Regions from separate parts of the Homo sapiens genome. Here regions 1 and 3 are each linked to region 2. Evidence: fine-mapped expression QTL. A gene starts in region 2. Each other region holds a variant in brackets. All regions are shown on one strand. Distances are between the middles of the regions. Region 1 has its middle 26 kb from the start of UBAC1. Region 2 holds the start of NACC2 (NACC family member 2). Region 3 overlaps NACC2 (NACC family member 2).

Region 1 (4,127 bases), 110 kb before region 2:
GAAACTTTAAACCTTTAAATGCTAAAGCCAGCCGGGCGCGGGGCTCAAGGCTGTAATCCCAGCACTTTGGGAGGCTGAGGCGGGCAGATCACATGATGTAAGGAGTTCGAGACCAGCCTGACCAGCATGTTGAAACCCCCTTTCTACTAAAAATACAAAAATTAGTCGAGCCTAGTGGCATGTGCCTGTAATCCCAGCTACTCAGGAGGCTGAGGCAGGAGAATCGCTTGAACCTGGGAGGCAGAAGTTGTAGTGAGCCAAGACTGTGCCACTGCACTCCAGCCTGGGTGACAGAGTGAGACTCCTTGTCTCAATAATAAATAAATAAATAAATAAATAAATAAATAAATAAATAAATAAATAAATGCTAAAGCCTATTAGGCTATTTTTTGTTGGAAAGTCTCCTAAAATTCACCTCCTAGTGTCCCGCCTTATCTGGGAGAGCCTGGGAATCAGGCGGGGAGAGCTTCCTGGAGGTGGTGTCGGCCTCCTCTCCCTGCCTTTTTCCCCCTTCTACCAGAAGGAAGGCCATAAGCCGCCACCCGCCACTGGGCCCTGGCCTGGCCCTTCTGGCCAGGGCTCCCATACCCGCCATTGTGTCCTGGGCATGCGGCCTTGCTGACGCTGTCTCCTCCCCCAGCTGCTGAACACGGGTGGGTCAGTCTCCAAGCTTCAAGCTTCTTGACCCCTGTGAAGCGCTCTGCTCACGTGTTGGTTGGGACTCGGGTGAACACGAGGCAGCGGAGGCAATCAGAAAGGACGCGCTGAGGGCTGCGCTTACCCCCATCTCTCTTTCCCTGGGGTAGGCCCCTTCCTCCTGCTCCTCCTGAATGCTGGCACCTGCGCAGCCCTCTGCCATGACTCCAGAGCCAACCCATGCTCACAACCTCCACGTGCTGCCCCCAGCTGGCCTGGGCACTCGGCCTCCCCCTCTCCTAGGTCCAGAGAACGGGTCTGAAAGCCTGTGGGGGCCAACAGCAGCGGCCTGTTCCCCAACCTGCACCTCCAGCCCAGGCTGTCCTCCTCATCCTGCGTTCCCGGGCCTGGTGTGGAGCTGGACACGTCCCGAATGTCCCTGTGTCCCTGCGCAGGCATCAGGTCTGAAATGCCATCGGTGCTTCAGGCTCTCGTGTCCGCGTGGCCGGCAGGATGCTTCTTCTGAAGTGGACCGAGAGCCGTTCACTCGTGCCAAGGGGTGTTTGAGAACGGAGCCAAGTGCAGGGCCTGCAGGGGCGGTGCTGGAGGGTGAGGGGCGCCAAGGGCTGTGGCCGGGCCCCTGCAGCCTCCCTGTCTGCCCTGGGGCCCCCTCAGCTTAGTCCCCTGCCACAGCCAGTGCCAGCAGCAGGCGAGACTGGAGGGGGCCTAGAGGACCTGGCCTGCCCCACTCCCAGGTGGGGAGGTTGAGGCCCAGGGAGGGGAAGGAGATCTGGCTTCAGGGTGAGATGGGCAGGGCAGGAATGCTGGCCCTGCCCAGCGTGAGCTTGAGCAAAACACCCCACCCTGAACCTTTGCTTCCTTCCACAGAAAATGAGGGTGTCCATGGCGCCCGCCTCGGGGGGTTCCTGGGAGGAAGCACCCAGGGCCAGCCTGGGGGGCACGCGGTGGGCGGTTGGTGCACACACAGGCCCTTGGCTCTGACAGGCCTGGAGCAGTGCAGGGGTGCCGTGCCGGGTCCTCAGCACCGGCTCCCAGGCAGCCAGGGACTTCCCGGAGCTCCCTGGTCACCAACCCAGGCTTGATGGAGGCCCCGGCTGCATCTCTGACCCCTGACCCCTGACCCCAGCCTGCACCAAGCCCCACACGTGACTGGAATTTCGCCTGCACGTTCGGCCTGGTACTCACAGGAGGCTCCGAGCAGCCCACCCTTTCGGACAAGCTGGTCGGGGCCTCTGGTGGTCCAGCCCTCCACTGCCATTCCCGG[G/A]GGGCCTGGGCCCCTGCCCCTCCCCTGGCTGGAGACATGGGGGTGCAGCCCCTCTGTCCAGGCCCAGCAAGCCGGGATCCCATCCGGCCAGAGTCCACACTGCCTCTGCCAAGTACGTGACGGTTAATGTCATCACCGTGTGCACAGCCCTCTGTGTTACAGTGTGTAATATAAACTCAAAAATTAATTTTCTCACCTTCAAAAAGCGTCTTTAACTGCTCCTGAAAGGAAATATGGCTAAAACCATAATTTTAACGTCAATTCTTATTAGAAGGTCACGTTTGACCAAATTCTTTTGTTAGCTCATGACTTTGCATTTTCTCCTCCTTAGAAAAAAAATCTCCTTTATCTGCTTTAGCCCCGATTTTAAAAATGCCCAAAGGGGCTGGGTGCGGTGGCTCATGCCTGTAATCCCAGCACTTTGAGAGGCCGAGGTAGGTGGATCACCTGAGGTCAGGAGTTCAGGACCAGCCCGGCTAACATGACAAAACCCCATCTCTACTAAAAATACAAAAATTAGCTGGGTATGGTGGCATGCACCTGTAATCCCAGCTACTCGGGAAGCTGAGGCAGGAGAATCACTTGAACCTGGGAGGTAGAGGTTGCAGTGAGCTGATATTGCACCACTGCACTCCAGCGTGAGCAACAGAGAGAGACTCCATCTCAAAAAATAATAATAATAAAATAAATAAACAAATAAATAAATAAATAAATAAATATGCCCAAAGGAAAATTAAACAGTCCTATCCCTGCCCAGTCTTATGTCTGCAGGTGGCAAGCGTGGTTGCAGGATGACCTTGGGTCACTCTGGGATGTAAGGGTTTTCCAGACTCCACGCCGGGTTCTGACACTGGCCCCCGTGAGCTCGGGCCCGTGTGGTCACAGGCCAGTTGTCAGAGGATCCTTGGTCCCAAGGGAAACTGTGTGGCGTTGCAGAAGGGGGTGCCCCTCTTTCTGCTGTTGGGGACCACAAGCCAGAGTGGATCCCCTCCTCCAGTATGGGTCCCCCTGGGAGCCCACAGGATCCTGAGGCAGGACCCCTAGGTGATCTCTGCCATGAGCAGCCCCCGTCCTTGGCCCCCGCCCATCCTCTGGCCTCTGGGGCCGGGCGGAGCGCGGGGCGTTGGTGCAGGAGGGCTGGGGTTGCACATCCTCCAGGACCTGAGCATCTGCTGGATTTTTCTCAAATGATGAGCACGCCCCTCCCTGGGTGGGGAGTCTCCCTGGGTTGGGAGTGTGTGGCCAGCTTTGGGATTCCCAGAGTCCCTCAGAGCCTCAGGGGCTGCTCCCCGGGGACCCGACTCACAAGCCAGGTGTCACAGGAGGCGACTCCAGGGCACTGCTCGCTGGAAGCAGGTAGGGCCCAGACAGTCAAGAGGTGATGCAGGGACCAGCGAGGTGGCCCCACCCTCATAGTGCCCCGCCTGATGGGGCCCGCTTGGGCTGGGGGCTCCTGGAGACAGACTGGCAGGCTGCTGGCTCTACCATCGTTCAGCAGAACCTCATGCGTAAGAAGTAGGGGAAGGCATGGGATCATCATCCCCTCCTGATAGAGAAGCTGAGCCGCAAGTGGGACTCCTAAGAGGAGACGCCTGGAGACGCCTTTAGTCTTAATATGTTCCCGTGTGTGCATATGTGCACGTGTGTGTGTCTGTGTGCACAGGCGCGTTGGGGTACAAGAGTGAACACAGCACCCGGGAGCATTCCGCATCTGCTCACAGTCTCAGCCTGAGGCAGCCGGGCCAGGCTTGCTGGAAAACAAGCCCCGGGATCGGACCAAGCAGCTGCCCCTCCTCGCACTCTGCCTGGCAGCCCCCAAGGCAATGGGAGAGTCCCAGAGCCACCTCCAAGCCCCCAGAGTGTTTGGTAAGTAAGCGGAGGCCGAGGGTCCCCAGCCTGAGGCGTGGAGCTGGGCCCCTTCCTCTGGGCCCCTGGGGGAGGTGGGTGCACCGTGTTCCCCGGGCAGCTCTGTCCCGAAGGCTCGCAGGCCCCTCCCTTCAGCAGGTTGATTTTCAGTGCCCAGAGAACAACAAATCACTCTCTGACAATAATGGGGATGAACAGACACTTAATTATGAGGCCACGAGACAGCGCGATTATTAATTTTAAATTGTGCAACCCAGTCCTGAAGGCTGAGCCTGGAGTGCTATCCCAGGGGCTCACGGGAGCCTGGGAGCCTCAGGGCTGGCCGGAGCTCAGAGACTCG
Region 2 (4,127 bases):
AGTGACAAGTGATATCTTGTTCCACTCTCTGTGCCCATTCCAAGTGGCTTTGCCGAAAGGACAGGGGGCCACCACCTTGGGTGGCAGCTCCTTTTATTTCCTCCCCTTGGACTCTGGCCCAGCTACCACCCAACAGTGACCCCAGGGGAAAACGCCAAGAGGCCTCTTTAAGGGAGGGGCTGGGAAAGGCCCCACAGAGGACCAGAGGGGTGCTCCAACGGTGGCCGGGAGAAGAAGGGGTGGGTGGCTGAGAGGTGGCGGGTGGGGCGGGGGCTGCCTGAACCCTGACCTAACTCTAGGCGCCCCTGCTGGGGGGTGCTACAGGCTAAAACACCCTGCAGAATGCTGAGCTGAGTGTCCCACTGGAGAACAGGAGGGAAGGAGGTCAGGAGCCTGCCAGACGAAAAGAGGGGTGGGTGAGAAGAAGGGGCGACCTGGAGGGACACGGACTCTGGCAGGAGAGTGCGGCCGCGCTGGCGGGCGGGAACACCAAGGTGCACGCGCTCCCGGAGGCAGCTCCACGGGATGGGAGTCCGGGCTGCCTTGGGCACCCCCGGGTCAGCACCCCCGCCACACACAGGAAGGAACGCGCAGCAGAGAACACAGCTCAGGGCACCCAGCGGCCCAGGGAGACGGGCCCACCAGCACGTGGGTGAAACACCTCCAATCCGGAGGCCCCGCGCGGGGGTTGGGGGAGGGAGTGGAACGGCCTGGGAGGCCAACTCCAGGGACCCGGCCTCGCGGCCTTCAGACCCACAGGTTTAAGCGGCTCCACGACGAGAGTCCAAGACCAAACTTCCCCCAGAGCCTGGCAGAGGGGCTGGGAGGTGACCTCTGACCTCCGACCCCACACGATCCCAGCAAGAGAAGCAGGAAACTCCGTCGGAAGGCCTCGGTCCGCCCTGGCCGTGCGGGGTGCGCGGCGGGCCCCGGGCTCCGCTGAGTTTCTTAGAGAAGGAGCTGGGGCCCCCCGACCTCAGCTCCGCAGAGGCACAGAAGCTGGCAAGAGGCAGAGCCCCCTCCCCCTGCGGCCGGACCCCAGTTTCTCCCCAGGCTGGGGCCCGAGTGGGGGAGGCGCGGGAGGCGGTGACGACCCACGAACGGGCCCACCTGGACCGGGAGGGCGAGGCGCGGGCCCGGCTGGGCCAGGCAGCTGCGCAGATGCGCCGGGAGGGGTGGGTACCTCCGCCCTGGCCCCGGGCCAGTCCTGCCCCGGCTTCCCCACCCGGAGGGCTGGATCGGCCAGTCGGGTCCCTGGGGAGGCCGCGCGGGTCCCCAGAAATCCAGGGAAACCCAGCAGGCGGCGGGGAGCGCCCCGGGACGCCCGGAGCCGGGGTCTCCCCGAACGCGCGGCGCGGCGTCCCGGCCCGGGGTCGCGGGCGCCTCCGCCGGGACCCCCCGGCCCCGCCCGGCCCCCCTCCGCGGGCTCCCGAGGCCGGTTCCCGCGCGCACGCCCGGGCCGGCGCGGAACTCGGCCGCACCCGCCCCGCGCGGCCGGCACTGCGGCAGGGGGCTCGCGCCAAGTTGGGCGGCCGCGGAGTTTGCGGGAAGTGCGGGCCCGGCCCGTGGGACGACCCCGCCCGGCGGCGTAACCCGGGGGCGGCCGCGCGCGCCAAGTTGGCGGTACCTGCGGGCGCCCGGCCCGGTCCGGCCTGGGCAGCTGCGGCGCGCCGCCCGCGGCAGGAAGTGCTTGGCGTCCCGGCGCTCCGGCTCCCATGGACTTTCTCCGACCTCGCCCAGCACCGGCGGCCGCACCGCGGCGGGGGCGGGGCGGCGGCGGGGGAGGTGCCCGCGGGCCGTTAAAGGGACAGCGCGCCGGCCGCGCGCGCGCGCGCACTGGCAGCCAGGTGGGCTCCCGGGGTCGGGGCTGGGGTCCGGGGGCCGGGAGGGTCCCCAGTGGGGGCCGGCGGGGCGTGGGGAACCCCGAGCGCTGGGGAGGGGAGGCGGCAGCTCCTCGCCCCTCGCGCGTCCTCCTTCCGGAGCTGCCGGCGGTCGACCCTGCGCGGGACACCCGGCGGGAGCCGGACGCCGCGGCGCAGAGGACGGAGCTCGGCGGCCGGGTCGGGAAAGGACCTGGAGCGCCGCCCTCCGCCCTCCCCGGGCCCCGGCCTCGGCCGGACTCGCTAAGCCCGGGAGAGCCCCCGGGCCCCCCTACCCCGCCCCCGGCGCGCGCCCTGCCCGCGGCAGTCGCGTCCGCACGGTGCAGCCTCCGGGATCCGGGCGGGGGAAGTGCGCGCATCCGCAGCCGCCCTGGACGCTCAGGCGGGCCGTGAAAGACGAGGATACGGGAGCGCCCTTGGGCGAACGTCTGCGGGGCTCCGGCGCCCGTCCCTGCGGCCCGGGAACTGCAAGCTGCCTGGACTGGGCCTGGCGCTGCCTTCAGGCCTGGTGTGATCCGGGCGCACTGGGGCGTTGACAGTCATTCCGGCACCGGCCACGCAGCTCTCCATCTGCCCAAGGCCACGCTCCTGAGGACAGAGGTGCAGTTTTAAAACAAGGGCACGGAAATAAAACGGCCACACACCCGGAAAGACCCAGAGACCCCTCCTCAGCTGCCCCCTAACCTGGGGCCTGAGGTCAGGACAGGCTGCAGTGGTCCTCAGAGGCTAAGCCAGCCTCACTCCCACAGCACGCTCAAGGGTCCTTGCAGGAGAATGGAGTGATACCGCCTCAGTGGTCCCGAGCGAGGGCGCTGGGAGAAGGGTTGAGAAGGAGATGGCCACCAGCATCCCAGAGAACGCCTTTGGGGCTCTGGGGATCAGAAACCTGGGGCTACAGCCCTTCTGGCACAGTCAGCCAAGGTCATTCCCTGGACAAATCATCAGAAGCTTGGCCAGGTTCTTGTCACCCCAACCTCAAGCTAGGCCCTTGATCTTGGCCACAGACTGGCCCTTGACCCCAACTTTAGGTTCTATTCAGCTCTGCGTCCAGAACACACACACACACACACACACACACTTCACTCCCTGGCTTGCCTTGTATGGGGGTGAGTATGGAACCCCGCAGGGACTCTGGGCTCTCCCCACAGAGTCCCATCTAGACCTAAATGCAGTCCCAGGTCCCACACCCCAACCCCCCTCCCCCCACCACTGCCACTTCCAAACCCGCCCCGCAGTCTACTGTGGGAAGGAGGTGGGGTAGGAGGGTTCTGAGTGCCTCCTACACCCAGGGCATGAGCTCAGCAGCCTCAGGGTTCTGGTGCTTCCTAGGCCTGACTTTACAATCTCTGCAGGATCTCTCAGTGAGCATAGCTACCCCAAGCCCCTGAGAATCGTGAATCCCAGAGACAGATGCCTGGAGCTGCTTCCAGCCCTGGGGCAGGCCTCAAGGGGCTACCCACTAGGACCCGTGGCCCTCCAGGGATGGGAATGATTGTTTTAATCACTTTTATTTTCTAAATATTAAAGACATTCTTCCTTAGTGAAGGATATTTGGAAAGCATTGAAAAGTGTTTAGAAGATAGCGGATAAGCAGAAATCAATTCCCCAATTTCTGTGTGCCTATACGTATGTACACCAACATATATTTGCACCTTTTAAAGCAAACCCTGCATCCCTACTGAATTCCAGGCCCGTGCTACTGAGTATGTACACCTTACCGCATTTAACGTTCACAACAGTACCATGAGGTGAGCTCTGTTTATTCCTTTTTTTTTTTTTTTTTTTGAGTCCGAGTCTCACACTGTTGCCCAGGCTGGGGTGCAGTGGCGCGATCTCAGCTCACTGTAACCTCTGCCTCCCGGGTTCAAGCGATTCTCCTGCCTCAGCCTCCCGAGTAGCTGGCATTATCGGCACGTGCCACCACGCCCAGCTAATTTTTGTATTTTTAGTAGAGACGGGGTTTCACCATGTTAGGCAGGCTGGTCTTGAACTCCTGACCTCAGGTGATCCACCTGCCTCAACCTCCCGAAGTGCTGGGATCACAGGTGTGAGCCACTGCGCCCAGCCTTATTCCCGTTTTACAGCTTAGCCTGGGGCTCACTCAGGGGTCCCCAGCAGGGCCTGGGCTGAGTGGGGCTCACCCCGGGTGCATCCTCCGCATCTCCTCCCTGCATTTGATCTTGTTGATTCCTGGCTGCTACAAGGGCCTGGGGGCCACAGTCTCAACTGAGCATAGCAGCACCGCTG
Region 3 (4,127 bases), 48 kb before region 2:
GGACACCGGGTGGACCCCAGAGAGGTGGGGGTGGAGGGAGCCAGAAGGGAAGGGGAAGCGGACATGCACAGGGCCACCCACTCACGGGCCCACAGGCCCTGTGGCCAGAGCTGTCCCCTGCCAGGAAAGGGTTACCGTCACGGGCCCACGGGCCCTGTGGCCAGAGCTGTCCCCTGCTGGGAAAGGGTTACCGTGGAAGTGTGCAGCTGGTGTCAATACCCAGGCGTGGCTTTGTCTCTGCCAGCCACACAGAGTGACATCTGCCAGCTGCAATTAAACATCTGCCCGCCCGAAGCCACTGCTGAGGGCATGAAAGGGATGGCCGGGCGAGCCCCATCAGGCACAGGAGGGGGTGTGGGCGCAGGTCCGGGCAGCCCCCTCCCCTTCAGAGGACAGGAGAGAAGCCCCAGCATGGCACTACCCCTTCCCTCTGCGAGCTCCATTTCCCTGTCCCTCGACCTCAGCGGTCTGCCATGCCACAGGTGCCCGTCCTCAGCTTGGGTGACAACGGCCACCCCCACTCAATGAAATAACCGTCAGGGCCCCGTGCTGTCATCTGCCCTGGGGTAAAAGCAGCTGCCATGACCGTCTCGGCTGTTGCAGGGACCTGTGGATCCAGATGTGCCAAGGAGACCACGGGAACAGACCCCTGAGCGCAGCTGGGGAGCCCCCACCCCAAGCCCAGCCCCAGCTGGCGCTGCCCACCCGGCCGGCTGCCTTGCCGGGGAAGCCCCGGCTCCCGGTGTCCCTGCTGGACGTTCAGATGCCCCCGAGCCCTGAGCCCCAGCGGGAATGCAGCCGCACCCTGGGGGAATGAAGGCGGGTACGCGAGGAAGAGGGCCCGAAGAGGAAAGGGGCTCCCGCTCAGGCCACAGCACCACCAAGTCCCAAGGCACAGGCTCCCTCTGCCCGGCCCACCTCCTGCTCTCTGGAGGGGCTGGCCCCTGACTCACCCCCGTGGTGGGGCGGGAAGGGATGGGGGTGCAGGGGAGGCGGAGGCAGGCATTTCGCAATCTCTAGCTCAGATGCAAGGCCCCTGACAACGCCAGGCAGGGACGCCTGCGCCTCACCCTCTGGGAGGTTTCCCCATCAGCCAGAGGGGAACTGCACTGGGCGTTTCCCTTCCGGTGGATACGATGTTTTTCTTTCACCCCTGGGTGCACCCCACCCCCAGCTCATCTTGCTCCGGGGTCTCCCGAGGCTGCCGGCCACAGGGCCAGGAGGAAGGTCCCTGCCTGCCGCAGGGGTGATGGCTTAAGGCCCAGGAGGGCGCCCTGAAGTGACTGCTGCAGAGATGAGGGCTGGTGGGTGGGAAGCACTGAGCGTCCCGAGCCAGCGTCCACCTGATGGGGACCGAGACGGGGCCTGCCTCGCTGCGGGTGGGGGGGCTTGAACTCGGCCCCATCAACCTCACACACCCATGCATGGCGCCTTCTCGCAGCTTTGCTCCTGACTGCAACAAACTGAAAACAACCTGAATGTCCTTTGATAAGGCACTGGAGAAATCAAACGTGGCGGCTCCTTCTGACGGGTGGTGACGCGGGACCTGGAGGGAGGGAGGAGAGGCACGAGACAGACACCGCATGGAGACCCTTGCCGTGAGGCCACACAGACCATGGGGCGGGGGCTGTGCCGGGGACAAAAGGCAATTAACTTTATCTGTAATATTTTGACTTATTTCAAAAACAGGAGAACAGCCCTACAGGACAAACTGTCCATGGTTCTTAACGCGAGAGAGGGTGGAACAGGCACACGCATTACCACACACCAAGGTGCAGCTCCGGGACCCTCGGCAATCGCTCAGGCCCGCCTCTCACTCAACAGGTAGGGAGACTGAGGCCAGGGAGGAGGAGGAGCTCAGCCTGCAGGGACCTTAGAACACGCTAGTCCTACCAGCCCAGAGAGACAGCTACCTG[C/G]CTCCACTCCTGCACGGCCTGGCGAGGGCAGCAGCCAGCCTCCTGCGTGGGTGTGAGGACGTTCCCCGGACGAGCCCGGGACACGGAGGGCACGGGGAGCTAGCACCCAGGGGCAGCTCCAGGTCAGGCGACGGCCCCTCCCTCTACCTGCTCCCCCCATGGCACCGCCAACCCAGCACACCCAGCGACGCCAGCAACGTCACAGCCAGTAACCTAGATTTTAACCAAGAAATCACACACCCCCTTTCTCTGCCCCACTTATGGGCTTGCCGAACAGAAAAACCATGACAAGAAACCCAGACTGTGGCATCCAGAGCCAAACTGTATGGTAGGTGGGCGGGAGCAGGCCTGGCCTCCCAGCCGCCCACTTTCCACCTCGCTGGCATCAGCGACACCCGTGCAAAGGCAGAGAATGCCGCGCAGCACCTGCGGCCTGGACAAAGCCCTGCAGGAACATGGCCTTGAGGGTGTCCCCACCCCTCAGCCCCAATGGGACTGTACCTCGTGTGGTCTGAGTACGGGGGAGTTGGAGGGAAGGACTCACCAGAGCAGCTGCCTCCCGTCCCCACCCAACACACATCCGGGACTCCACAGAGCCGCTTCCTGGCTGCGGTCCTGCTGACTCCCCAAAAACCCATCAAGGCAGGTGGGCGTGAGGGCTTCTAGCTCACGAAGTCCAGGCGATGTGAGGGCTTAAGGCTGACCCAGCACCCAGGGGCAGATGCATGGGACAAGTCACGAGGCTTCACCGTGCTCCCAGCAAACCCGACACCCAGCCCTGGCTCCCATCACCCCAAACACACCAAGGCCCAAGGTCACATTGGAGCAGCAGGGGGCTGTGCAGGGAGGACCCTGGGAAGATGTTTGGATACGATGGGTCTGTTTCCATCTCCATGGTGCAGCTCCCTGACCCGTCGGCAACCCGTCGGCAGGGCCCTGTCTGGCTGCCATTGTCGGCAGGGCACTGTCTGGCTGCCATCAATGGGGGATGTCCTCAGGGACTGTAGGGGTGCCCAGCCTGTCTGGGGTTCTGCCCTGGGACTGGAGCCCATGGACAGAGCTCCTTCCCAACAGGGGCCCTGGGTGGGCCTTGGGAGCCTTCCCCAGCAGCCTCTGGCTGGTCCCCTGCCTTCCCTGGGGTGGCTGTCAGCAGGGGCAGAGGGAAAGCGCACATGGGGCGGATTCCCCGGAGGCCTCAGCCAGCCGGGTCCACAAGCACTGACATCCTGTACGGCCTCTGTGGTGAGCCGGAGCCCGGTGTGCTCTGCCCTCAGGAAGGGCCAATTCCGTAGCTAGCAAAGCTCCCAGTCTCAGGACAAATCAAGCCCTACCCCCTACCACTAAAAGAAAACAAAAGCTGTGAAGCCCAGATCGAGGTGGCCTGTGAGCTGGCATTCTGTGGGATTCATGCAAACACAGCAATATACATTTAAACCAAGTGCGGAGTTCTCAGGAAGACACCACGGAGCCCAGAGCACCTGCTGGCAAGGCAGTGGCTTCTCCTGCAGGCGGAGAGGGAGCCAGGTTGGCCAAAGCAGTGGTTACCCTGCTGTCCCGGCTGTGGTGACAGACGCTGCACAGGGACCCAGCTGGCCTAGGGGTCCAAGCTGGTGGGTGGTCCTGGCCCCCTCTGCCCCCAACCAGCACTGCAGGAGGGGAAGGGCAGGGGGGCGTCCCATCAGGGCACAGGGATATGCGTGGTGGGGTGGAGAGAGTCCCTACACTGCCCCTCGGGGTCCACCACCTGCCCGTGGCTGGCATTATGCACCCGCACCCAGGCCCAGGCCGCTGCACACAGGCCCTGCATGCAGACCAGCCAGGTGGCCAGCCCAGACACACAGTCAGGTTGCAGGGACACCCGATCCTGGGCACCAACTGTGGGACTCTGCCCAGCAAAGCCTGAACAGTCTCCAGAGGCTGTAACCAGGAATCTCCAATTAGGGCAACCTGGGTTTGTGGGGCCCAGGACGGGGAGCAGCCCTCCTTGAAAGAAAGGAACGGAGAGGAGGGGGAGCGACTGCTCACTCGGCTCAGCACACTGGGCGCTTCCTGGCCCATCCCTGGCGCGGGGCCTGGAGAGGTGGTGGCAAAGGGGCTGGGTTCAGGGGACTCTCTAGACCTGGCCGGGTGAGGCGCAGACTGAGGTTAAAGGGGAAGTAGGCGGGTCCTCCCGTACACCGCGTGGCGCCAGGCCCTTCACAGACGGGGAAC

The links. PIP is the estimated chance that this variant, and not a neighbour inherited with it, causes the effect.
Region 1: its variant is the best candidate, but not a certain one, in a credible set for the expression of NACC2 in whole blood (INTERVAL, PIP 0.52).
Region 3: its variant is the best candidate, but not a certain one, in a credible set for the expression of NACC2 in whole blood (TOPMed, PIP 0.72).

Annotation. Positions count from the first base shown.
Region 1 is chr9:135,985,001-135,989,127 of GRCh38, forward strand. No RefSeq gene overlaps it. Among named protein-coding and RNA genes, the nearest start is that of UBAC1, 26 kb to the left of the region's middle. The variant G/A (reference allele first, on the strand shown) is at 1,922.
Region 2 is chr9:136,093,562-136,097,688 of GRCh38, forward strand. It overlaps NACC2 (NACC family member 2), which reads right to left and starts at 1,728. Exons shown (of 6, transcript NM_144653.5): 1 at 1,628-1,728. RefSeq lists an enhancer at 1-435 and silencers at 1,641-1,770, 2,091-2,190.
Region 3 is chr9:136,045,219-136,049,345 of GRCh38, forward strand. All of the region lies in intron 2 of NACC2 (NACC family member 2), which reads right to left. Among named protein-coding and RNA genes, the nearest start is that of NACC2, 48 kb to the right of the region's middle. The variant C/G (reference allele first, on the strand shown) is at 1,917.